Linked DNA regions of Homo sapiens. The protein of the gene in region 1 purifies or fractionates together with the protein of each later gene. This does not show direct contact. Each region holds a gene or a part of one and is shown in the gene's direction. Other genes may lie near its edges. The genes, in order: AARS2, SCN2B, SIRT4, DHRS4, ARMC6, HPN and STK39.

The links.
Region 2: the proteins of AARS2 (region 1) and SCN2B purify together in Homo sapiens (co-immunoprecipitation; one large-scale study listed by IntAct). This does not show direct contact.
Region 3: the proteins of AARS2 (region 1) and SIRT4 purify together in Homo sapiens (co-immunoprecipitation; one large-scale study listed by IntAct). This does not show direct contact.
Region 4: the proteins of AARS2 (region 1) and DHRS4 purify together in Homo sapiens (co-immunoprecipitation; one large-scale study listed by IntAct). This does not show direct contact.
Region 5: the proteins of AARS2 (region 1) and ARMC6 purify together in Homo sapiens (co-immunoprecipitation; one large-scale study listed by IntAct). This does not show direct contact.
Region 6: the proteins of AARS2 (region 1) and HPN purify together in Homo sapiens (co-immunoprecipitation; one large-scale study listed by IntAct). This does not show direct contact.
Region 7: the proteins of AARS2 (region 1) and STK39 fractionate together in Homo sapiens (co-fractionation; one large-scale study listed by BioGRID). This does not show direct contact.

What each region holds. Positions count from the first base shown.
Region 1 is NC_000006.12:44,298,231-44,300,789, reverse strand, and holds the end of AARS2 (alanine--tRNA ligase, mitochondrial), read left to right. Parts: intron 1-78; coding exon 79-243; 3' UTR 244-2,059; downstream 2,060-2,559. UniProt on the Homo sapiens protein: Catalyzes the attachment of alanine to tRNA(Ala) in a two-step reaction: alanine is first activated by ATP to form Ala-AMP and then transferred to the acceptor end of tRNA(Ala). Also edits incorrectly charged tRNA(Ala) via its editing domain.
Region 2 is NC_000011.10:118,173,840-118,177,998, reverse strand, and holds the start of SCN2B (sodium channel regulatory subunit beta-2 precursor), read left to right. Parts: upstream 1-1,359; 5' UTR 1,360-1,567; coding exon 1,568-1,637; intron 1,638-4,159. UniProt on the Homo sapiens protein: Regulatory subunit of multiple voltage-gated sodium (Nav) channels directly mediating the depolarization of excitable membranes.
Region 3 is NC_000012.12:120,305,321-120,308,820, forward strand, and holds part of SIRT4 (NAD-dependent protein lipoamidase sirtuin-4, mitochondrial), read left to right. Parts: intron 1-3,500. UniProt on the Homo sapiens protein: Acts as a NAD-dependent protein lipoamidase, biotinylase, deacetylase and ADP-ribosyl transferase. Catalyzes more efficiently removal of lipoyl- and biotinyl- than acetyl-lysine modifications.
Region 4 is NC_000014.9:23,963,770-23,966,774, forward strand, and holds part of DHRS4 (dehydrogenase/reductase SDR family member 4), read left to right. Parts: intron 1-808; coding exon of another isoform or gene 809-829; exon of another isoform or gene 830-1,992; coding exon 1,993-2,063; exon of another isoform or gene 2,064-2,162; coding exon 2,163-2,214; exon of another isoform or gene 2,215-2,513; coding exon 2,514-2,648; exon of another isoform or gene 2,649-2,936; intron 2,937-3,005. UniProt on the Homo sapiens protein: NADPH-dependent oxidoreductase which catalyzes the reduction of a variety of compounds bearing carbonyl groups including ketosteroids, alpha-dicarbonyl compounds, aldehydes, aromatic ketones and quinones.
Region 5 is NC_000019.10:19,047,103-19,050,602, forward strand, and holds part of ARMC6 (armadillo repeat-containing protein 6), read left to right. Parts: intron 1-3,500.
Region 6 is NC_000019.10:35,058,721-35,062,220, forward strand, and holds part of HPN (serine protease hepsin precursor), read left to right. Parts: intron 1-338; exon of another isoform or gene 339-952; coding exon 953-1,082; intron 1,083-1,153; coding exon 1,154-1,276; intron 1,277-1,408; coding exon 1,409-1,449; intron 1,450-1,626; coding exon 1,627-1,792; intron 1,793-1,906; coding exon 1,907-2,097; intron 2,098-3,500. UniProt on the Homo sapiens protein: Serine protease that cleaves extracellular substrates, and contributes to the proteolytic processing of growth factors, such as HGF and MST1/HGFL. Plays a role in cell growth and maintenance of cell morphology.
Region 7 is NC_000002.12:168,164,096-168,167,595, reverse strand, and holds part of STK39 (STE20/SPS1-related proline-alanine-rich protein kinase), read left to right. Parts: intron 1-188; coding exon 189-297; intron 298-3,500. UniProt on the Homo sapiens protein: Effector serine/threonine-protein kinase component of the WNK-SPAK/OSR1 kinase cascade, which is involved in various processes, such as ion transport, response to hypertonic stress and blood pressure.

The sequences.
Region 1 (2,559 bases):
CACTCTTGAGGGTACCTTGAGTGGATGCTGGCAGGGAGGGCCACTCTGCATCGCTTCCTCTTCTGATTCTGTTCCTAGGGTGCCATGCCCACCTTCACAGCAGAGGCCTGGGCACTGGCAGTGTGCAGCCACATGGGGGGCAAGGCGTGGGGCTCACGAGTGGTGGCCCAAGGCACCGGAAGCACTACTGACCTGGAAGCTGCCCTCAGTATAGCCCAAACCTATGCCCTCAGCCAGCTCTGACCCAGGTCCGCCCAGGGACCCACATGGACTAAAGGCAATGCCAGGAGCCCTGAAGGAGCCAGCAGAACCTTCCCACATGCTGAAGCGAGGACTAGAGGCTGGAGGCCAAGCAGCTGAGCCAAAGAAGATCACCTGGGCCAGGGCCTACGTGACACAAGGAGACATGGGCTAGGGAAGGCAGAACTGGGCCCAAAGACACACACCCCCTTGGTGAAAGAGAAGACATGGACAATTATGGCTGTGACTGCACATTAGAAATTATTTCACTGGCCGGGTGTGGTGGTTCACACCTGTAATCCAAGCACTTTGGGAGGCCGAGGCAGGTAGATCATGAGGTCAGGAGATCAAAACCATCCTGGCTAACATGGTGAAACCCCATCTCTACTAAAAATACAAAAAATTAGCCGGGTGTGGTGGCACACGCCTGTAGTCCCAGCTACTCGGGAGGCTGAGGCAGAAGAATCGCTTGAACCTGGGAGGTGGAGGTTGCAGTGGGCCAAGATCGCACCACTGCACTCCAGCCTGGGTGACAGAGCGAGACTCTGTCTCAAATAATTATTTCACAGAGGATAGCAAGCTCCAGAAGGTTCTATTACCTTTAAAAAAGAGTAGTTTTGCCCCTCCCAGCAACCTAAGACCAGTCTGAACTCACACTGTCTGAAAGGCCACCCAGGATCCAAATCGGGCCATCTTCATTGCCATGAGTGTTCGGACAGGCTCTGCGTGCCAGGCAACAGTGGGCAGACAAAGGGCTCCCTGGCTACTGGGAAGATACAGAACCATCCTGTGAAAATCATTTCAGCACTGGAGACCTTCTTTGCTATTACTTCTTTCATTAACAATGACCTCTAATTTAAATTGGGCCCTGCTGGTTTGTTGATGAATTGAGCAACTGAGAACGTGGCGGGCACTAAACTGACAGTTCCTTCCTTCATGGAGCCTGCTTCATGTGGAGGAAACAGGAAATAAAGCAAAAGAAGAGGGTCAGGCTTGGTGGCTCATGCCTATAATCCTGGCATTTTAGGAGGCTGAGGTTGGAGAATCGCTTGAGGCCAGAAGTGCAAGACCAGCCTGCGCAAACAGCAAGACCCTGTCTACAAAAAAAAAAAAAAGTAATCTTTATGCCTCAGCCTCCCAGGTAGCTGAGACTACCCACACCTTGGTCCCAGCTACTTGGGAGGCTGAGGTGGGAAAATCACTTTGCCCAGGAATTCAAGGCCGCAGTGAGCTATGATTGCACCACTGCACTCCAGGCAACAGAGTGAGACCCTGTCTTAAAAAAAAGAAGGGAGAAAGTGTCAGATGGTGATGAGGTCTGGGGGGGAAATAGAGAATGGGGATCAGGAGTGTGGATGGTGATATTCCCTCACCAAGAGGTGACATGTGAGCAGGGAGCTGGGAGGTGAGGGTGTGACCCGTGTGGAAATCAGGGAAAAGCATTCCAGCCTGAGGGAACAGCCAATGCAGAGGCCGTGAGGTGGCCAGTGCCACTGAGCAGTGAGCTGGGATAGGGGCAGGTGAGGAGGCTGGAGAGCGGGGTCAGACAAACAATATGCTTATTAAAACAAGTTGTACAGCACCTGCCTCAAGCCTGAGCTGAAGCTGAAAATTGGCACTTCAAAGCAGGAGGAAGCAGAGATGGAGGAAAGCCCTCCTTCCCTACCAGAATGAGTCCACCTCAGACAGCCAGACTTTGGACCTCTGCCTTTGTTCCTAGATCTCTGTTGCTAGATGAAGGAAAGGGCCTCAGGGGATCCATCTTCAAATCAAGGGCTCCCTGGCTACCAAATTCTGTCTAGTAAAAATTATTCGAGCAGCGTGGGCCCGCCTGGCATCATTTTCTGCAGTTTCTCATTCTAATTAAGGCACTGATGATTTGCTGGTAAGGCACTGCTGAGGGCTTGAAGGGACCCAATCCCGGGTGCCTGGCCCCTCACTGCTTGCAAAGCAGCATCCTGGCCACTGGGGCAGTAGCCTGTTTAGCAGTGCTCACCACAGGCCCAGGTTCAAGCTCCTCCGCGAGCGCCAAGATGAGTTTTGGCACCCCTGATTTATTGATGAGTTAACAGAGCTTCGAGATGTTCATCCAGGGTAACCAACTAGTAGTCCTCGGCAGAGCTGAAGTCAAAGCTACCCTTTGAAAGCCCCGCCACCCTGGCTGCCTCTCCCTTCCTGAAGGCCAATTTCTTTTTTTTTACTAGCCGTCCCTCTGGTCTGTCCCTCTCGCCCTCCAGGAGATCTGGGGCCCCAACCACATCTTGTCGCGCCAGGGCTGGAAGAGAGTTTGGCACAGGGCATGGACTGTGTGAAGGAGCG
Region 2 (4,159 bases), on another chromosome or scaffold:
CCTTGGACTCCACCCACCAAGTTCTCCTACTTATGACGTTAGCTTATTTTTTCTTCCTTCTTCAAAAGAAAAGTTTTAAACATACACAAAAGAAGAGAGAACTATATGACAAACCCTTTACACCCATCACCAGCTAGTTTCAATTATCAAGCAAAACAACTAGTCTCGTGTCACCTATTCTCCCATCTCTTTTTTTCGTTGAATATATATATATGTATTTTTGAGATGGAGTCTCACTCTGTGGCCCAGGCTGGGATGTAGCGGAGTGATCTCGACTCACTGCAACCTCCGCCTCCCAGGTTCAAGCAATTCTCCTGCCTCAGTCCCCCCAAGTAGCTGGGATTACAGGCACACGCCACCACACCCGGCTAACTTTTGTATTTTTAGTAGAGACAGGGTTTCACCATGTTAGGGAGGCTGGTCTCGAACTCCTGACCTCAGGTGATCTGCCTGCCTCGGCCTCCCAAAGTGCTGGGATTACAGGTGTGAGCCACCCCGCCCGGCCACCCATGTGTGTCTTTAACAGATAGAGATGTTAAAGGACAAAACCACATTTTATCAGACCCAACAAAATTAAGAATGATTCATTAATACAATCTACTATGTAGTTCATATTTAACTTTTCCCAATTGTCTCAAAAACTTTTCTTTCCTGTTGATTTGTTTGAATCAGGTTTATCCAAAGGCCTGTGTTACATTCAATTGTAAGATCTCTTGGGTATTTTTCTATCAGCCTGCTTCAACATGTTCTGTTTTCAGAGGAAACGCTAGAATGAGGAAAGCATTACCCCTTGAAAGTCTCTCCAACTCACTTTCCTGAACCCTTTTCAATAACACAAAAACAAGCATCTCCTTTTTTTTTTTAGGTTTTTTTTTTTTTTTTCCCTCTGGAGGCAGGGCCCAGGCTGGAGTGCGGTGCAGTAGCTGGGACAAGAGGCATGCGACATTATGCCTGGCTAAATTTTGTATTTTTAGTAGAGATGGGTTTTGCCATGTTGCCCAGGCTGGTCTTGAACTCCTGGACTCAAGCAATCCATCCGGCCTCCCAAAGTGCTGGAATTACAGGTGTGAGCCACTGCGTCAGCCTGGGGGTGTTTTTAAATGATAAAAGGTGTTTCCCTTTCCAGAATCTTTAAAATAAATGGATTCCTCTAATAGCTTTCAAAATCCAACAATCATCCCAGTGAAGTCAAAAAGCAGGGTTTGTATTATTTCTTGTTTTAGAGGGTAAAAATTTCTGGGATTTTGTTCTTTTCAAAATGACTTTTTTATGCCCTCCCACCTGCTTTTTGAAATCCACCAACCACAATATTTACCCCATCCCCCTTTTCTCTCCCCCCCATCTCTCTCTCTCTCCTTTACACACTCCCTCTCTCTCTCTTTTTAGCAGCAACATACAAGCCGGCCATATTAGAGAGATGGAAATAAAGCTTCCTTAATGTTGTATATGTCTTTGAAGTACATCCGTGCATTTTTTTTTAGCATCCAACCATTCCTCCCTTGTAGTTCTCGCCCCCTCAAATCACCCTCTCCCGTAGCCCACCCGACTAACATCTCAGTCTCTGAAAATGCACAGAGATGCCTGGCTACCTCGCCCTGCCTTCAGCCTCACGGGGCTCAGTCTCTTTTTCTCTTTGGGTAAGTTAGACACATCTGCATGCTCCCGAGGGTTCAGAAGTGTAGCCGCAATGTGAAGAGGATGGGGGCAGGGGATAGGAAAGAAGACATTGCTAGCGCTTTCCCTCTGTGTCCTTGGGAGGGGAGGTGCTGGGGACTGGAAGGGACGTTGCTGGGGAGTGCAGAACCCTGGGACTACTTAGTCACAGAAATGTTGGGTCAGGGGATCTGAGTGTTGCTGGGGGCTGACAATTGTCAAGGGAGGTGAATCTTCTCTGGATTTCCCCTAAGTGGACCTACGTGGCGGTGGGGCAGAGAGTGGATTGACCTGCAGTCTCTTCAGGGATTATTTTTTGGAGTTGCTGCAAATGCGGGGTCCTGGGACTTAATGCTCCCTTAAGGGGCTTCTTTTCAGAAGCTTGATCCTGGTGGATTTAGGGTATTAGGAGAGTGTGCAGGGGAGCTGGTGGCAGAAAGTTGAGTCTGGGTCTGGCTTCTTGGCACTCGGTCTCACTGATCTGTTGGAACGTGTGTGGGAGTAGGTGGGAAGCGGGCTTGGGGAATGATGTCTGGGTTGGGAGGAGACCTGCTGAGGCACGCACTGATGGAGAAGGCACCTTTGGCTTGGGCCGGATGGAATGGAGGAAGGGCCAGGTGTAGAGATTCAGGAAAAAAATGGAACCCACAGGCTGAGCGAGGTTGCAGCCCTTTAAATCCAGCCTCAGAACTGCCCAGCCCAGTCTTGCAGACTGTCCTGTCAAGTGTTTGTATTTGACCACTCAGAGACTTCCTGGTGGGGAAGTGGGCTAGAAAGTTATTTGCAAGCCTGCTTTGTAGAGTTTCATTCTTGCTCCTAAACTTACTTATTGCTGGAGCAGCAACTGAGAGTCAAGTCCAAGGACTGTTGATGGAACTATTCCCCACCACAAAGGCTCTCTCTCTTTCTGTGGTGTGATGTGCTGGGTTTGGAGTAGGAGTGCTAAACACAGACAGTGCAGAGGCCCTGCCAGCCTGCTTTGCTGAGTTACTTGGCATATTAACATCAGAGCAGGAATGCTATGGAATCTCTGGCAGGACCTGGGTTTCAAGCCACCTTTGTCATTTACGTAATGATCACAGGCAAGTTACTCAACCCCTCTGAGCTTCAGTTCCCTCCCGGGTAAACTAAAGAATGCCTACTGCCTGACGTGTTTGTGATTTGGTGCATGGCAGGAACTCAACGATGGCTAACATAAGAATGCTTTTCGTGAGCCCAGGCACTGTGTATCTTGTTTAGCCCTCACAGCAATCGGAGGTAGATTCTATTATACTCAGGTTACAGGGAGGAAACAGATGACTATGGTAACGGGAGCTGAAATTTGAACTCCCTGTGTCTGACTTCAGCACATTCTCTTAAACGTTGGATTCCACTCCCCAATGTTCAAGAAATGGCACTGCTATATTAACAGTACCTAATTGATCAGAGTCTCAGGACAGGCTGAAAGAAGGGGAGTTGGGTGAGTGGCCTGTTGTAAGGAGGCCCAGCTGGAGGACAGGACCCTTTCCTCAGGAGTTAGGAAGCACTTCGTGCAGGAGAGAAGCCGCCTGGTGAGAGCCATGGCTAAGTAAAGATAGAAAGGGGGCTCAGTGACCAGGACCCAGAGCTCTGGGCTAGGGTGAGGAAGAGGGAGTCTGCGATGAAGAGGTCTGAGTGTTTGGGGTGGGGAGATGGTAGTGGGAGGAAGCTAAAGCTTCTGCAAAGCTGAGTGGGAGAGGATGCAGGAATGGGGACCTTGAACTTGAACTTGATTGGTGCTGTAATGAGGCATGTCCCTGGCACTCCAATGCTGAGGGCCGAGTTGACAGTGGAACTTTGGTGGTGTTGCAGTAGCATCGATCCCCAGGATGGAGGATGCCACAAGTGACGAGGGAGGGGACTCTGTCGGGGCTGGGCTTGTGGGGATGACTATGGAGGTGGCAAAGAGAAAGGGCAGGTGGGCAACCAGCTCTACCCACGGCAGAAGCATATGAGGCTAGTTTTAGCCAGAAACAATTCAAATGACTGGGCTTCCCTCAAGTTTTTCTTGAGACCGTTGACTCCACAGTCACTGGCCTGCTTACCAATGTATGGATTATGTTAGTGGAGGCATAGAAAGTGGAGTCTGGGCTGAGCATGGTGGCTCACGCCTGTATCCCAGTGCTTTGGGAGGCCGAGGTGGGAGGATCGCTTGAGGCCAGGAATTGGAGACCAGCCTGGACAACATAGCAAGACCCTGTCTCTACAAAAAAAAAAAAAAAAAAAAAAAAAAAAAGAAAAGAAAAATAAGCCAGGCATGGTGGCATGTACCTGTAGTCCTAACTGTTCCAGGAGGCTGAAGAAGGAGTATCAAGAGTTCCAGGCTGCAGTGAGCCGTGATCATGCCTCTGCACTCCAGCGTGGGCAGCAGAACCAAACCCTGTCTCTTAAAAAAAGAAAGAAAGAAAGAAAGAAAGAAAGTGAAGTCTAGTCCTCACTCTAGCCCACTGCACATATCTGCTGCTTGTGGTGGTGGGGACCCAGACAT
Region 3 (3,500 bases), on another chromosome or scaffold:
GCTCACTTCAGCCTCAATCTCTTGGGCTCAAGTGATCCTTTCACCCCAGCCTCCTAAGTAGCTGGGACTACAGGCAAACGCCACCGTGCCCAGCTAATTTTTAATTTAATTTTTATTTTTTGTAGAGACGAAGTCTTACTATGTTGCCCAGGCTGGTCTCGAACTCCTGGGCTCATGTGATCCTCCTGCCTTGGCATCTCAAAGTGCTGGGATGACTAGTGTGAGCCACTGTGCTTGGCCTTGAAGCTAGGGTATTTATTCACCATCTCTCATCCCTCATGGGTCCAGGATCACTCTAGGGGAATTAATTCCCTAACATTTTGACTCTGCTCCTCCCAAGGAGGCTTCCGTGGGCAGAGAACATCTGAGGCAAGAGAGACACAGGAAACTGCTTGTAAGAAAATTGTGTAGGCTGGGCGCGGCGGCTCACGCCTGTAATCCCAACACTTTGGGAGGCTGAGGCAGGCGGATCACGAGGTCAGTTGATCGAGACCATCCTGGCTAACATGGTGAAACCCCGTCTCTACTAAAAATACAAAAAATTAGCTGGGCGCGGTGGCGGACGCCTGTAGTCCCAGCTACTCGGGAGGCTGAGGCAGGAGAATGGCGTGAACCTGGGAGGTGGAGCTTGTGGTGAGCCGAGATCGCGCCACTGCACTCCAGCCTGGGTGACAGAGCGAGACTCCGTCTCAAAAAAAAAAAAAAAAGAAAGAAAGAAAATTGTGTCCACCAGGGTGCTGTGGTTCATATCTGTCATCCCAGCAACTCAGGAGGCTGAAGCAGGAGGATTACTTGAGGCCAGGAGATCAAGACCTGCCTGGGTAACACAGCCAGACTCCGTCTCTACAAAAAATTTTTTTAAGAAAGGAAATTGGCTGGGCACGGTGGCTCGCGCCTGTAATCCCAGCACTTTGGGAGGCTGAGTTGGGCGGATCACCTGAGGTCAGGAGTTCGAGACCAGCCTGACCAACATGGAGAAACCCTGTCTCTACTAAAAATACAAAATTAGCTGGGCGTGGTGGTGCATGCCTGTAATCCTAGCGACTCGGGAGGCTTAGACAGGAGAATAGCTTGAACCCAAGAGGCGGAGGTTGCGGTGAGCCGAGATTGTGCCATTGTACTCCAGCCTGCAGCCTGGGCAACAAGAACAAAACTCCGTCAAAAAAAAAAACAAACAAAAAAACAGAGAAAGGAAACTGGGACGGGTGCGGTGGCTCATGCTTGTAATCCCAGCACTTTGGGAGGCAGAGGCAGGCAGATCACTTGAGGTCAGGAGTTCGAGACCATCCTGGCCCACACGGTGAAACCCCATCTCTACTAAAAATACAAAAAATTACCTGGGCATAGTGGCGCACGCCTGTAGTCTCAGCTATTTGGGAGGCTGAGGCACGAGAGTCGCCTGAACCTGGGAGGCAGAGGTTGCAGTGAGCCAAGATTGTGCCACTGCACTCCAGCCTGGACAACAGAGTGAGACTCTATCTCAATAAAAAAACAAAAAGAAAGGAAACTGTTCGAACGTGGCCTTTAGCATGTTCTGAGGAAAATATGAGCTGAACACCAATAGCATGTGCTATAAACTGCTGGGTTTCCAATGCCTAGGATGGCTAGATACATAGACCATAACGTAGCCGGGCAGTAGTCAGAACTCAATCAATAATGAGGGAACAGATACATGGGAGGGTATCATGCTTATGGGTCTGGCAATAATTGTAGCTAATTGGAGACTTATTTCTTTAAGCCCTAGAGAGGCTCCTCTGAGGGCTGAAGTCAGTCTGCCAATGCTGAAATATTTACTGGGTGCCTAGAATGTATGGTGTACATACGTTACACTATGTAGTACATTATAACACTAACTACTGTGCTTCTTAGTGGTCAGAACCAAAGTATAGGCTGGGCTCAGTGGCTCACACCTATAATCCCAGCATTTTGAGAGGCTGAGGGGGCGGATCACTTGAGCTCAGGAGTTTGAGACCAGCCTGGCCAATATGTCGAAACCCAGTCTCTACTAAAAATAAAAGATTGGCCAGGCGTGGTGGCGGGCGCCTATAGTCCCAGCTACTCGGGAGGCTGAGGCAGGAGAATTGCATGAACATGGGTGGCAGAGGTTGCAGTGAGCCAAGATCGTGCCATTGCACTCCAGCCTGGGCGACAGAGGGAGATTGTCTCAAACAACAAACAAAAACCAAAGTATAAAACATGGCCCACTTTATATGCAAGAACTTTGTAATATTTGGGAAGACACAAAAATAACATAATTGGCCGGGCACGGTGGCTCACGCCTGTAATCCGAGCACTTTGGGAGGCCGAGGCAGGGGATCACCTGAGGTCAGGAGTTCAAGACCAGCCTGACCAACACAGTGAAACCCTGTCTCTACTAAAAATACAAAATTAGCCAGGCATGGTGGTGCATGCCTATAATCCCAGCTACTCAGGAGGCTGAGACAGGAGAATCATTTGAACCCGGGAGGCAGAGGTTGTAATGAGCTGAAATCGCACCATTGCACTCCAGCCTGGGCAACAAGAACGAAACTCCTTCTCAAAAAACAACCAAGCAAACAAACAAAGAAAAGCACATAATTAATGATAAATGACAACGCATGATTGTGAAATTGTGTGGTTCTTGATTTATATGCTGTGCATGTTCAAATAAACAGATTTAGTAAAGATTGGAATAATCAGTTGAGAAAGCTTTTTAAAAAAAAAATTTTTTTTTTTAAATAGAGACAGGATCTTGCTGTGTTGCCTAGTCTGGTCTCGAACTCCTAAGCTCAAGCCCTCCTCCTGCCTTGATCTTCCAAAGTGTTGGGATTACAGGTGTGAGCCACCATGCCTGGCCCAAGAAAGCTTTTTTTTTTTTTTTTTTTTTGAAACACAGTCTTGTTCTTGTTGCCCAGGCTGGAGTGCAGTGGCACGGTCTCGGCTCACTGCAACCTCCGCCTCCTGGGTTCAAGTGATTCTCCTGCCTCAGCCTCCCAAGTAGTTGGGATTACAGGTGCCTGCCACCACCCCCAGCTAATTTTTTGTATTTGTAGTAGAGGTAGGGTTTCATCATGTTGGCCAGGCTGGTCTCGAACTCACTCCTGACCTCGTGATCCGCCTGCCTCGGCCTCCCAAAGCGCTGGGATTACAGGCGTGAGCCACAGCGCCTGCCCCAAGAAAGCTTTTATGGGTACAGGGGGCTTGAGATTGGCTCAGGTTTGTCTAGGCAAGAGCGGGAAACAGGGCTTTCCAAATGAAGGGAAGTTGTAGATCCCAGAGGAGTCTGGCCTGGCCTCTGTAGAGGTTTGGACCTGGGACTTGCAGAAACCAGATTGTCTGGGAAAGTTAGGCCCAAATCATGGTTACATTTGAAAATCAGGCAGTGCAGTTGGGTCTGCTGTGAGACACCAAAGGGGTTTATTAGTGGTTTCTGAGCAAGCAAGCAACATGATAAAAATAGCATTTGAGGAAGGCTAAACAGGATTAAAAAGAGCAGGTCAGGGAGGTCAGCCTGAAAGACC
Region 4 (3,005 bases), on another chromosome or scaffold:
TGCCTCAGCTTTCAACATGCCTTCCTCACTAAGCTTAATTGTTTCTAGCTTTTGATTTAAAGTGAAAGATGTGTGACTCTTCCTTTTGCTTAAACACTTACAAGCCATTGTAGGGTTAATAGTTGGCCTAATTTCAATGTAAATGTGTCTCAGGGAATATGGAGGCCCACAGAGAGGGAGAGAGATGAGAGAAGGGCAGAGCAGTCAGAACACACAACATTTTTCGATTAAGTTGACCTTCTTTTCTGGGTGTGGTTTGTGGTACCCCAAAACAATTATAATAAAACCATGAAAGATCACTCATCACAGATCACCGTAACAGATACAATAATAATGGAAAGGTCTGAAATATTCCAAGAATTACCAAAATGTGACCCAGAGACAAAGTGAGCACATGCAATTGGAAAAATGGCTCGAATTAATGCAGGGTTGCCACGAAACTGCAATTTGTAAAAAAAAAAAAAAAAAAAAAAAAAAAAAAAAAACACAATATCTGCAAAGCATAAGAAAATATGTGTCTATAACTTTTCTTTTAATTTGTATATTTTTTAAACTATCACAGTATGACAAATCCAAACATAATGGCTGATCCTTGATTGAACTCTGGACTTTAAAAAACACACACACACATTTGGGGGATAATTGAGGCCAATATGTTAGATAAAATTATCATCATTGTCAAACTCTTGGTTGTGATAACAGATTATGGTTGTGTAAAAGAAAATCCTTACTCTTTGGAAATGTATGCTAAGTATTTGGGGATAGAACATTGTACTATCTGCAACTGAGTTTACTTATTTTATTTTAGGTTATTTATTTATTTTTGTGATGGAGCCTCACTCTGTTACCCAGGCTGGAGTGCAGTGGTGCTATCTCAGCTCACTGCAACCTCCACCTCCCGGGTTCAAGCTATTCTGCTGTCTCATCCTCCTGAGTAGCTTGGATTACAAACACATGCCACCACGTCTGGCTAATTTTTGTATTTTTAGTACAGACGAGGTTTGCCATGTTGCCCAGGCTGTTCTCGAACTCCTGACCTAAAAGTGATCCACCCATCTTGGCCTCCCGAAGTGCAGGGATTGCAGGCATGAGCCACCATGCCCAGCCCTGAGTTTGTTTTTTTTTTTTAATTTACATTTTTTTATTTTTGTTCTTTGTAATTTTTGATTTTATTATATAAAATCTTTCAGAAAACTTGCAACTGAGTTTCAATGGTTCATTTAAAAAACTGTACAGATCTACAGAGAGGACAAATAGGACAAAATGTGAACAATTGGTGAATCTAAGTGAAGGATATCTAGACATTCATTGTACTTCTATCTCCAATTTTTCTGTAAGATTGAAATATTTTAATATAAGCAGTTGTCTAGAACAGTGTAAACAGGGTCATACATTTGTTTTAGATTATGGATGTGGGGATTCTGATTGTAGCCTGTCCCCCAGCTTCCCCAGAAGGTGACTCCTCATGATCCCACTTTCTAACCATGCCTAGCCAGACAGTCCTTCCTAGAGGGCCAAGAACATCTCACTCCCTAAGCCCAGAAGCCAGAGAAGTGCTAGAACAACCCCACATATCCAAGGTCAGGCCACATTTTCCCTGAGAAGCATGGCCTACTCTAGGGCAGGTAGTCTAGGGCAGGTCCAGGAGGCTGACAATTCCAGGCTCTACCTACTTGGAAGAAACAGAGAAAACACAGCTCAAATCCAAAGGCCCCTTCTGGCCCAAATCATACTTGGCTGATTATGAAACAAGATGAACCAGGCTCCATTTTTGCTCACCTGAACCTAATGTATCAATATCTAGCTGAGCAGCTGGTGAGAGCTACTTCTCCCTGAACCTCAGTTCCTTCATGTGTAAGATGCAGGTATATCATCCTAAGATCTTCGTCAGCTCTGACAAACATCCTAGGAACCCACTCTAACTCCTCATTTTTTCATGCCTCCTCCAGTGCTCTTCACTCATGCTGTTTCCCCTTCTTCTCTTGGCTTCAGACTCTGGACATTAATGTGAAGGCCCCAGCCCTGATGACAAAGGCAGTGGTGCCAGAAATGGAGAAACGAGGGTACAGAGAGTGAGAGAGAGCCTGGGTGAGAGGGGACACCACACGGGCTGAGGGCACTGGTCCACAATGGGAAGATGGTCAGCTCTCTTCTTTTTCCAGAGGCGGCTCAGTGGTGATCGTGTCTTCCATAGCAGCCTTCAGTCCATCTCCTGTAAGAACCCTTTTGTCTACCTCTTCCATCCCACCCTCCACTCCACATCTTTCCACCCCTCCTATTACCCAAGGAAGTTTGTGTCCCCTTGTAGAATCACACCACCAAGTCCCTGCCCACAAAATAGATGCCTTGCCTCCACAAACCACAACCTAGGGGAGGTTTAGCCACAAGACAGTTCCCTAACTCTGCCCCTCCCTTACAGGAGATCCCTATTGAGCACTGCCCTCTATGTCTAGTTATTAGAACCAAGAATGACCTGGAAACTATGAGTCTAACACATTCTCTTCTTTCTCCAGGGCTTCAGTCCTTACAATGTCAGTAAAACAGCCTTGCTGGGCCTGACCAAGACCCTGGCCATAGAGCTGGCCCCAAGGAACATTAGGGTGAACTGCCTAGCACCTGGACTTATCAAGACTAGCTTCAGCAGGATGGTGAGGAAGGGGAGCTTTGCATTTGACTGGGACCCCTTGAAAGGCATCCATCTTCTTGGACAGGGAAGCCCACTACCTGAGTCCTGAGCTCTCAGCCACTCCATTCTCCTTCCCTGGACTTTCCCATATTCCCTCTCTGTACCACCTGCCCTATACAAGCCACACTCTTATCACACCTTTTCTGAGGTATAGGCTGGAGACTGAGGTATTCAGACTGTACTCACACTGTTTCCTCCCTCCTTACATGGATGAGAATTGGAGAGACGCAGCAAAATGCATCACTAGAACCTGAAACAAATGAAACAGATGAGGGCAGTGGGGAGAGCTGGGAGCTAGAAAAAAATAGGAAGTGAAAGA
Region 5 (3,500 bases), on another chromosome or scaffold:
GCCACCATGCCTGGCTAATTTTAAATTTTATTTTTCATTAAGGAAGAGTGGAAATACATTCTTAGCATAAAGGATTCAAGCAATACTCAAGCATTTATAGTAAAATCTGAAAGTCCCTGCCTTGTCCCTCCCACCAGACACTGGGGTTTGCATCTCAGCGGTCAGTTCGCAACTGAACCAACCCCCTTCTCAAATGCCCTGCAGCATAATTGACCTTTGTGCATCTTGGCTTAGATGTGTAAAAAATGCTTATCTGTTGAGGGAGAAAAAAATTCAACATTGTGATGGTCGTTGAAATTAATCTGTTTGTGTCATAAGATTTGTTGCAAACAGGCTTGTAGAAACAGAAGGAAAATAATGTCTGGAGACTGTCCAGGGAAAAACTGAGCCAGCCAGGCCACATTTATATGTGGGAAGTTGTAGAATGAAAGGCATTAGTCACAGAGACTGAATGACTCCAGGAGTCAATGGGTAAAGCCCCCCTCCATGAGCAAGGTGGTGAGCGCCACAGAAAATTGTCATAGGTAGAACACAGCTGGCTCTGCCACCTGCATTTTAGCAACCATCTGTCAATGAAAATACTCTATAAAATATTTCAAGAGATTTATTCGGAACCAAATATGAGTGACCAAAGGCCCATGACACAGCCTCGGGAGCTCCTGAGAACATGTGTCCAAGGTGGTCGGGCTACAGCTTGGTTTTATACGTTTTAGGGAGACATGAGATATCAATCAATACATGTGAGACGTACATTGGTGTGGTCTGGAAAAGTAGGGCAGCTGAAAGCCGGGGCTTCCAGGTCATAGACACATTTAAAGATTTTTCTGGCCAGGTGCTGTGGCTCACGTCTGTAATTTCAGCATTTTGGGAGGCTGAGGTGGTCGGATTGCATCGAGCTGAGGAGTTTGGGACCAGCCTGGCCAACATGGCAAAACCCATCTCTACAAAAAATACAAAAATTAGGCCACGTGTGGTGGCTCACACCTGTAATCCCAGCACTTTGGGAGCCCAGGCAGGTGGATCACCTGAGGTCAGGTGTTCGAGACCAGCCTGGCCAACATGATGAAACCCCGTCTCTACTAAAAATACAAAAATTAACCGGGCATGGTGGCAGGTGCCTGTAACTCCAGCTACTCAGGAGGCTGAGGTAGGAGAATTGCTTGAACCCGGGAGGCAGAGGTTGCAGTGAGCCAAGATTGCACCATTGCACTCCAGCCTTGGTAACAAGAGCGAAATTGCATCTCAAAAAAACAAAAAACAAAAAACAAAAATTAGCTGGGCATGGTAGTGGGTGCTTATAATCCCAGCTACTTGGGAGGCTAAGGCGGGAGAATCACTTGAATCCAGGAGGCGGAGGTTGCAGTAAGCCGAGATCATGCCACTGTACTCCAGCCTGGGCAACAGAATGAGACTCAGAAAAAAAAAAAAAAGATTTTCTGATTGAAAGAGTTATCTAAAGACCTAGAATCAATAGAAAGGAATATTTTGCTTAAGACGGGTTGTGGAGATCAAGGGTTTATCAAGGAAGCCTCCAGGTAGCAGGCTTCAGAGAAAATAGATTGTAAATATTTCTTATCAGACTTAAAAAGGTGCCAGACTCTTAGTTAATTCTCTCCTGAATCAGGGAAAAGACCTGGAAAGGGAATCTCTGTAGAATGTAGCTTTTCCCCACAAGAGATAGCTTTGCAGGGCCATTTCAAAATATGTCAGAGAAATATATTTTAGGGTAAAATACTTTGATTTCTTTCCATACTGTATTAGTTAGGCTGGAACTTGGTGTCTTATTGCTACAAAAAAGTCTTACGATGATCAGTTATGTCTGACTTCCAAAGGCAGGAAGATAAAATGAGACATATTTGACCGCCACTTCCCATCATGACCTGAAGTAGTTTTTCAGGTTACCTTTGGAATACCTTTGGCCAAGAGGAGGGGTCCTTAGTATGGATGAGGACTTAGATTTTTTTTTTTTTTTTTTTTTGAGACAGGGTCTCCCCAGCTAGAGTGCAGTGGTGTGATCTTAGCTCACTGAAACCTCTGCTTCCCGGGCTCAAGCAATTCTTCAGCCTCAGCCTCCCATGTAGCTGACTACATGGTGTGAGCCACCAACATCTGGCTAATTTTTGTATTTTTTTTAGAGACAGGGTTTTACCACGTTGCCCAGGCTGGTCTTGAACTCCTGAGCTCAAAGCGATACACCTGCCTTGGCCTCCCAAAGTGAAGAGATTACAGGCATGAGCCACCATGCCCGGCCAAGAATTTTATTTTTAGTTTACACATCCTTGCTAACTTAGTAATTCCTTGTGAAATCTTGGTAGTTCTAACTCCAATACTGTGCATCCTCAAAGGCATTTCTGTCAGGAGCTTTTCAAGTTTCTTACAGGGTTTCTGCTGAAGTGCTACACCGCTGTTTGTTATGTAAAATGTGCATAAAAACATTTACCATTGTAACCATTTTTAAATGTAGAGTTCAGTGTCATTAAGTACATTCATAATGTTGTGCAACCATCATGACTATCCATGACTTGCGATACTGAAACAAACTCCATGTTCCTCTTCCCCTCAGCCTCTAGCAACCATCATTCTACCTTCTGTTGCTGCAAATTTGACTACTCCAGGACCTCATATAAATGGAATCACAGGCTGGCCACCCTGGCTTATGCCTGTAATCCCAGCATTTTGGGAGGCTGAGGTGGGCAGATCACTTTGAGGTCAGGAGTTAGAGACCAGCCTGGCCAACATGGTGAAACCCTGTCTCCACTAAAAATACAAAAATTATCCGGGCGTGGTGGCACATGCCTGTAGTCCCAGCTGCTCAGGAGGCTGAAGCGGGAGGATTGTTTGAACCCAGGAGGTGGAGGTTGCAGTGAGCTGAGATGGTACCACTCCACTCCAGCCTGGGTGACAGAGGAAGACTCCATCTAAAAAAAAAAATTTTTTTTAAATAAATGGAATCACAGTATTTGTCTTTTGGTGACTGTCTTATTTCACTTAGCGTAATGTCCTCAAGGTATATCCATAGCATACTATGTGCCTGAATTTCTTTGTTGTCATTGTAGTGTTTTTTTGTTTGTTTGTTTTTCTTTTTGGAGACAGAGTCTCTCTCTGTCGCCCAGGCTGGAGTGCAATGGCACGAGCTCAGCTCCCTGCAACCTCCAACCTCTTGGCTCTGATGAATCATGCTGCTATGAACATGGGTGTACAGGTATCTCTTTGAGACTGTGCTTTCAGTTCTCTTGAGTGTATCCCCAGAAGTGGAACTGATGGGTCACACAGTAATTCTGTTTGATTTTCTTTTTTGAGATGAATGCTCCGTATGTTGCCCAGGCGAGTCTTGAACTCCTGGGATCAAGTGATCCTCCTGCCTTGGCCTCCCAAAATGCTGGGATTACAGGCATGAGCCACCACGCCTGGCTTCTCTGTAGGTTTGAATTGCATTTTTCCTAATGATTAGTGACATTGAGCATCTTTTCATGTATTAGTGGCCATTTGTATGTATTCTT
Region 6 (3,500 bases), on another chromosome or scaffold:
AACAAATTTGTTCTTCTATTTTCCATATGCTGTCTGTGTACGTATAAAGTGAGAGGTCTTTTTATATGAGTTAAGGGTGTGACCAAAGACAAATGGAAAAAGACAAATGACAAACATACTAATAAAGAGCTTCGGTTTCTCCACAAAAAATACAATAATAAAATAAAATGTTATCAGAAATCTCTTGACTCTCCTCCACGTTAGCTCACTTTTTCCCTCAAGAGGGTGAACATGACCCTTAACAGATCCAGCCTCAAGTGCTGGATTCTCTTGGGAACTTGGTTAAATGGTTTTTTTTCTTCCCGAATGTCCAAGTCACCTTCCAGACCTGCAGCTCCTGAGCAGCCAACTTAGGACTTCTAATGGAGAGTGAAGTTCCCCTGGTTCGCGGAGGGGCCGGCCACAGCCTCAAGGCTGCTGTTGATTGGTCCGACCTGAGTCCTTGAGTCTGGCAGAGTGCCATGGTGCTCTGTAATCCCACCTGTAATCCCAGCATTTTAGGAGGCAGAGGCAGGAAGATTGCTTGAGCCTAGGAGTTCAAGACCAGCCTGGGCAACATAGCAAGACCCGTCTCTACAAAACAAAACAAAACAAAACAAACAAACAAAAAAATTAGTCAGGTGTGGTGGTGCACGCCTGTGGTCCTAGCTACTCAGGAGGTTGAGGTAGGAGGATTTCTTGAGTCTGGGAGGTCAAGGCTACAGTGAGCCAAGATCACACCACTACACTCCAGCCTGGGCAACAGAGCGAGACCCTGTCTTTAAAAAAAAAAAGTCCTTGAGTCATGATTCCAGATGCAATCGCAGATGTGGGGGCTGCAACCCTCCGATGGGCTGGGGTTCACGTCTACACCACATGGCTGGAGCACAGGCCAGGAGGGGCTCCGGCTGGGGAAGCATGTGGGGAGCCTGGCTGTGGGACCCAGGCGGCCCCGGGCCCTGTCGCCCTGCAGTGCAGGTCAGCTCTGCGGACGCTCGGCTCATGGTCTTTGACAAGACGGAAGGGACGTGGCGGCTGCTGTGCTCCTCGCGCTCCAACGCCAGGGTAGCCGGACTCAGCTGCGAGGAGATGGGCTTCCTCAGGTACTGGGGGCCCTCGGAGGGGTGGGAGCCGGGAGGGGCTGGGGAGCAGGCCTAACCCCTGCCCCGCCCAGGGCACTGACCCACTCCGAGCTGGACGTGCGAACGGCGGGCGCCAATGGCACGTCGGGCTTCTTCTGTGTGGACGAGGGGAGGCTGCCCCACACCCAGAGGCTGCTGGAGGTCATCTCCGTGTGGTGAGGAGGGCAGCGGGCAGGTGGGGCAACACCTCAGACCCCCAAGGCACTCCCTCTCCCCGTTTTCCTTCCACCTGTCTTAACTGGTCTCTATTTCCTTTCTTTCTGTGTCTCCAATCCCATCTCTCCCAGTGATTGCCCCAGAGGCCGTTTCTTGGCCGCCATCTGCCAAGGTGAGATCCTAAAACTCAGAACCCTCTCCTTTAGGCCCTTGGGGAGGCCACGTCCCCTCAAGCTCCCCAGGATGGGGCCATGTACTTTCAGACCCCCTAGGGCAGGGCCAAGCCTGGGCTCTGGGGACCTGGGCTCCAGTCCCCTGTCGCCGCCCCCTGCTGACCCTTGTCCCACAGACTGTGGCCGCAGGAAGCTGCCCGTGGACCGCATCGTGGGAGGCCGGGACACCAGCTTGGGCCGGTGGCCGTGGCAAGTCAGCCTTCGCTATGATGGAGCACACCTCTGTGGGGGATCCCTGCTCTCCGGGGACTGGGTGCTGACAGCCGCCCACTGCTTCCCGGAGTGAGTGCCCCCCAATGGCGCTGATGATGGGGAGGCAGAGGAGCGGAGAGACAGTGGGGAGGAGGGCGGATTGTGCCCAGGCAGGTGGCCACCCTCCACCCCTTTCCCTGGTAGGCGGAACCGGGTCCTGTCCCGATGGCGAGTGTTTGCCGGTGCCGTGGCCCAGGCCTCTCCCCACGGTCTGCAGCTGGGGGTGCAGGCTGTGGTCTACCACGGGGGCTATCTTCCCTTTCGGGACCCCAACAGCGAGGAGAACAGCAACGATATTGCCCTGGTCCACCTCTCCAGTCCCCTGCCCCTCACAGGTAAGTCTAAGGGCTGAGCCATGGGGCTTGAGGACCCGAGGCCAGGAGGACAGAGGAGGGGACCAGGGGCACAAGGCAATCAACTTATGGCTCAGGCATCCTTGGCAATAAGGGGAATGATCTCGAGGGAGCACAAAGTGGGCCTTAACTATCAATGATCAGTGCAGCCAATTTGGAAAATTTGCCAGCATTTCCCCAAGAAGTATACATAAAGTTACCATTGGACCCAACACTTCCACTCCCAGGACAGGAGGTATATACCTAAGACAAATGGAAACTGTGTCTGCACCAAAACTCGTACATCAGTGTTCATAGCAGCATTATTCATAATAGCCCAAAGATGGAAACAGCCCAAGACTGTTTCATCGGACAAATGCATAAAGAAAATGTGGTATATTGACCGGGCGCGGTGGCTCATGCCTGTAATCCCAGCACTTTGGGAGGCCGAGGTGGGTGGATCACGAGGTCAGGAGTTTGAAACCAGCCTGGCCAACATGGTGAAACTCCATCTCTACTAAAAATACAAAAATTAGCCTGGCCAACATGGTGAAACTCCATCTCTACTAAAAATACAAAAATTAGCCTGGCCAACATGGTGAAACTCCATCTCTACTAAAAATACAAAAATTAGCCTGGCGTGGTGGCACACGCCTGTAATCCCAGCTACTCGGGAGGATGAGGCAGGAGAATCTCTTGAACCCGGGAGGTGGAGATTGCAGTGAGCCGAGATCACACCACTGCACTCCAGCCTGGCTGACAGAGCAAGGCTCTGTCATCTTGAAAATAAATAAATAAATAACAAAAAAAATGTGGTATATCCACACAACGGGAGAATATTGGACCATAGAAATGAATGAGGTACTGATTCATGCTACCACAAGGATGAAACTTGAGAACAGTGCTGAATGAGACAAGCCAGCCGCAAAGGCCACATACTGTAGGATGCCACTTGTATGAAATGTACAAGGCTGGGCACGGTGGCTCACGCCTGTAATCCTGGCACTCTGGGCAGCTGAGATGGGAGGATTGTTTGTGCTCAGGAGTTTAAGACCAGCCTGGGCAACATAGCAAGACCCCATCACTTAAAAAAATGAGCTAGGTGTGGTGACGGATACCTGTAGTTCCAGTTACTCAGGAGGCTAAGGCAGGAGGATCACTTGAGCCCAGGAGTTTGAGGCTGCAGTGGGCTAGGATTGTGCCACTGTACTCCAGCCTGGGTAACAGAGCAAAACCTTGTCTGTTAAAAAAAGAAGAAAGAAAGAAAGAGAAAGAAAAGAAAGGAAGGAAGGAAGAAAAGAAGAAAAGAAAAGGAAAGAAAGAAAAGAAATGTCTAGAATAGGCACATCGGTAGAGATAGAAAGTTGATTGATGGTGGCAGGGTGGGAGGTGGGGATGGGAGATTG
Region 7 (3,500 bases), on another chromosome or scaffold:
TAATCTGAGTTGATAATGTGGGTGAGAGAATTGGTCCTTATATACCTTCTTTGAAGTAATGGCTTAGGCAGCCCCTCAGGTAGGCTTTCGAGTAGGAAAGTTACCCAGGTACTCAACTGTGATTCACTTGTGTTTTGCTTGCCAATTTTCACCCCATGGTACTATGTCATGTTTTGCTCTTTTTATAGAAAGAAATTCAAGCCATGAGTCAGTGCAGCCATCCCAACGTAGTGACCTATTACACCTCTTTTGTGGTCAAAGATGAACTTTGGCTGGTCATGAAATTACTAAGTGGAGGTAAGTGGATTTTGTTGTTGTTATTTATTTGCTTGTTTTCTCTCCTTTTGTTGGAACCAGCATATTGGAGAAGACTTTAGATTGAATCCTTTCTCTCCTGTGTTTGAAAGTTTGTTTGGTTTCTCATTGCCTAGAGGATAACGTCCAGATTGCTTCACATTGACCTTCAAAGCTTTTCATAATTTTGCTTAACTTCCGAGAATGTGTATGTCCTCTTCTCCAGGTATGAAATGCCCGACCTTCTAGGCTGAGAGGCAGCCCCCGGAATGTATTATGTGCTCTCATGCCTTTGCCCCTGACCTGTCCTCTTTCTCAGCCTTGCATCTCTCCTTTGTTTTCCATGTGCTCAGGCCTAAAAGGTCACATCCTCTCCACAGTCACCGCTTACTCTTCAAAAAAGTTAGCCAGTCCTTTCTCCTTGAGTCCTTTCTTTTTAACATTGTTCAGGTCCTTAACACATTGCAGTTTGCTGAATTATCTCAGTGCCATTTATCAGAATGTTCTGTGATGATGGAAATGTTCTGAGGTGCTGCTATCTACTTTTTACTAATCCCATGTGACTCTTAAGCACTTGACATGTGGCTAGTGTGACTGAGGGACTGAGTATTCAATTTTAATTAACTTACATTTAAATCACCTTGTATGGCTCCAGTATTGGACAGTGCATATTTAGGTTGTGGACTTTGTGAAGATTGTCTAATGCACTTTGAATTCATTGAACTTGGCGCCCAGTAGGTGCTCACTAAATGTGGTTTCAGTTGACATGGGGAGAAATGTGTGCTACATATTCACTTGCAGTGTTGATCAGAAATGGCACTATTGTCATCCTATTGTTGCATTTGGGAAGGGAAAGTCACTTCCTCTCTCTAGCTTCAGATCCCTGCAGTGATGCAAGCCATTGACAATTTAATTTACAAGGTGCTTTCACATCCTGTATTTTATTTCTTTTAATCTTCTAACATCACTATCAGAGAGGGAATGATAATGATAACCGTTGCCTTTTTTGAACACTTACTCTGTGGCTAGATCCTGTCCAAGGCAATTTACTGACCTTATCCCATTTAATCTTCACAGTGTCCCTGAATGGCCTGTGTCACCATCCCTGTTTTTCAGAAATTACACCAAATTTCAAGGGAGTTTAGCAACTTGCCCAAGGTCACACACATAGTAAATGTTGGTGCTGGAATTTGTGACTTTAACATCTGTTGACTTAAAAATTTGTATGCTGTGCTGCAAGTATTTACACCTTCGTTTTGCAGACATGGGCACTGAAGCTTAGAAAGCCCAAGTGATTTCCTTGGGAACACCCAGCATACCCACATCTCTGGTGTGTTCTCTTTCGAGGGCTTGATTCTCTGGGTATCTTTCTGAGACATGAAGTATGGTTTAGGATCAGAGGAGAACATTTTGCTGTGCCTGGACAACCCAAAACTAGCATAGCAGAATTTATATGATAGAGCCTATTTTAATCTGCAGATGTCGAGGGAGGTGTTTTAATGTTTTCCTTTTTTAAAAAGGAAACTCTCTTGGATCAAGCAGAAGCCCAAAAATGAGATGACGAAGGCATTGTAATTGGCTTGGGTCTGCTTGTGTAGGTCTCGGTGGGGAGCCCTGGGGAGCTTAGTTCTGTTCTGTTTTCAGTCTTCCTCAGTCTTATTAGTCATTGTTTCCTTGAGTGCCTACTTCAGTTTTTAATTAAAAAGAAAAAAAGAAAAAGGAAAAGAAAAAGGAAGCCTGCCAGAGCTGGACTGCAGTATTGAGTGCTGGGACTGCCCCTTTATTCAGCAGAGGAACTTGCGCTTTGCCAACAAGATGATCTTAAGGCATTCTCTTTTTGTGGGGTTCCACCAACTCTGAGGAAATGAGAAATTCTGATGACTTGAGACCCTGAATAGTCCCAAATGCTCTGCTCAAGCTGAAGATTTTACCTTTTGCTTTATGAAGCTGAGAATCTTCTGTTTTCTGAGGAGGATCTGACAGAAAATTTCTTTGTCTTTTTGAGTCCAATTTAGCCTCTCTGGGCTTTAGGTAAGAACAGATTTTAAACAGGTTTCCACAGGTAAGGACGTGGGCAGACGTGGACTCTTGTTCATTTTTCTTTTAGCAGGACAGAAATGCATGCATGCCTGGTATGGTATATCCTTATACAATAAAAAGAAAATGTTTTTGGAATTATCATTTTTTAAATGACACAAAAATCTAAGAGTCAACAAATAAACAGAGGTTTTTTTTTCCTCTGGGGAAAAATATGCATTTGTTTTCTTCTATTTCATTACATTGAATCTCTTAATGAGGGGCAGGCAGCTGTATCTGATGGGGAAGCTCAATCCTCTTAGTTAATTATAAAGAGCCTAGAGCCAAATTCAGGTCCTGAGGTAAGCCGTTTGTTAACTCTTCAGAAATGTCAAACCCCCAGGTAATTTTGGCTTTTAAACTGACCCAGGGGTTTGGAATACTAATTAATATGTGTTGAAACATGAATTCACAGTGCCAAGGATACTAATCTGTATATGGTAACAAAGTACTAGGTATCTGTTTGTTTATTGTAAGTGTTAGTGCCTCAAATATATCAGGTAAATGAAATAAAGATCAGCCAGGCTCAGTGGCTTATGCCTATAAGCCCAGCACTTTGGGAGGCCAAAGGTGGGCAGATCACTTAAGCCCAGAAGTTCAAGACCGGCATGGGCAACGTGGTAAGACCCCATCTCTACAAAAAATACAAAAATTAGCCAGGCGTGGTGGCACGTACTTGTAGTCCCAGCTACTTGGGAGGCTGAGGTGGGAGGATCGCTTGAGCCTGGGAAGTTGAGGCTGCAGTGAGCTGTGATTGCTCCACTGCACTCCAGCTTATATGACAGAGGCAGACTCTGTCTCAAATAAAAAAAGAAAAAGAAGGAAAGAAAATAAAGATCAGGTAGTGTCACAGGAAGGAATCTTCCGGTTATAAGCAGAGGTCTAGAAACAACATACTTCTTTCCCCCTCCCACCTGTGATTTAGGTCCTCAAAGAGTGTGTTTTTTTTCTCTCAGCAGTTCACTTCTGCCTTTTCTCCTGGCCTCATACTCCTTTCTTTGTCAGTTCAGACTTTTTGCACCCTCTTTGGAGGGTTGCTCTTAGGAATTTTTGTGAGAAATACTGTAACCAGAAAAGGAACCAGCCATGGAACGGCCATGAACAGCCTTCTGGTCCCTGACCCAGAATCC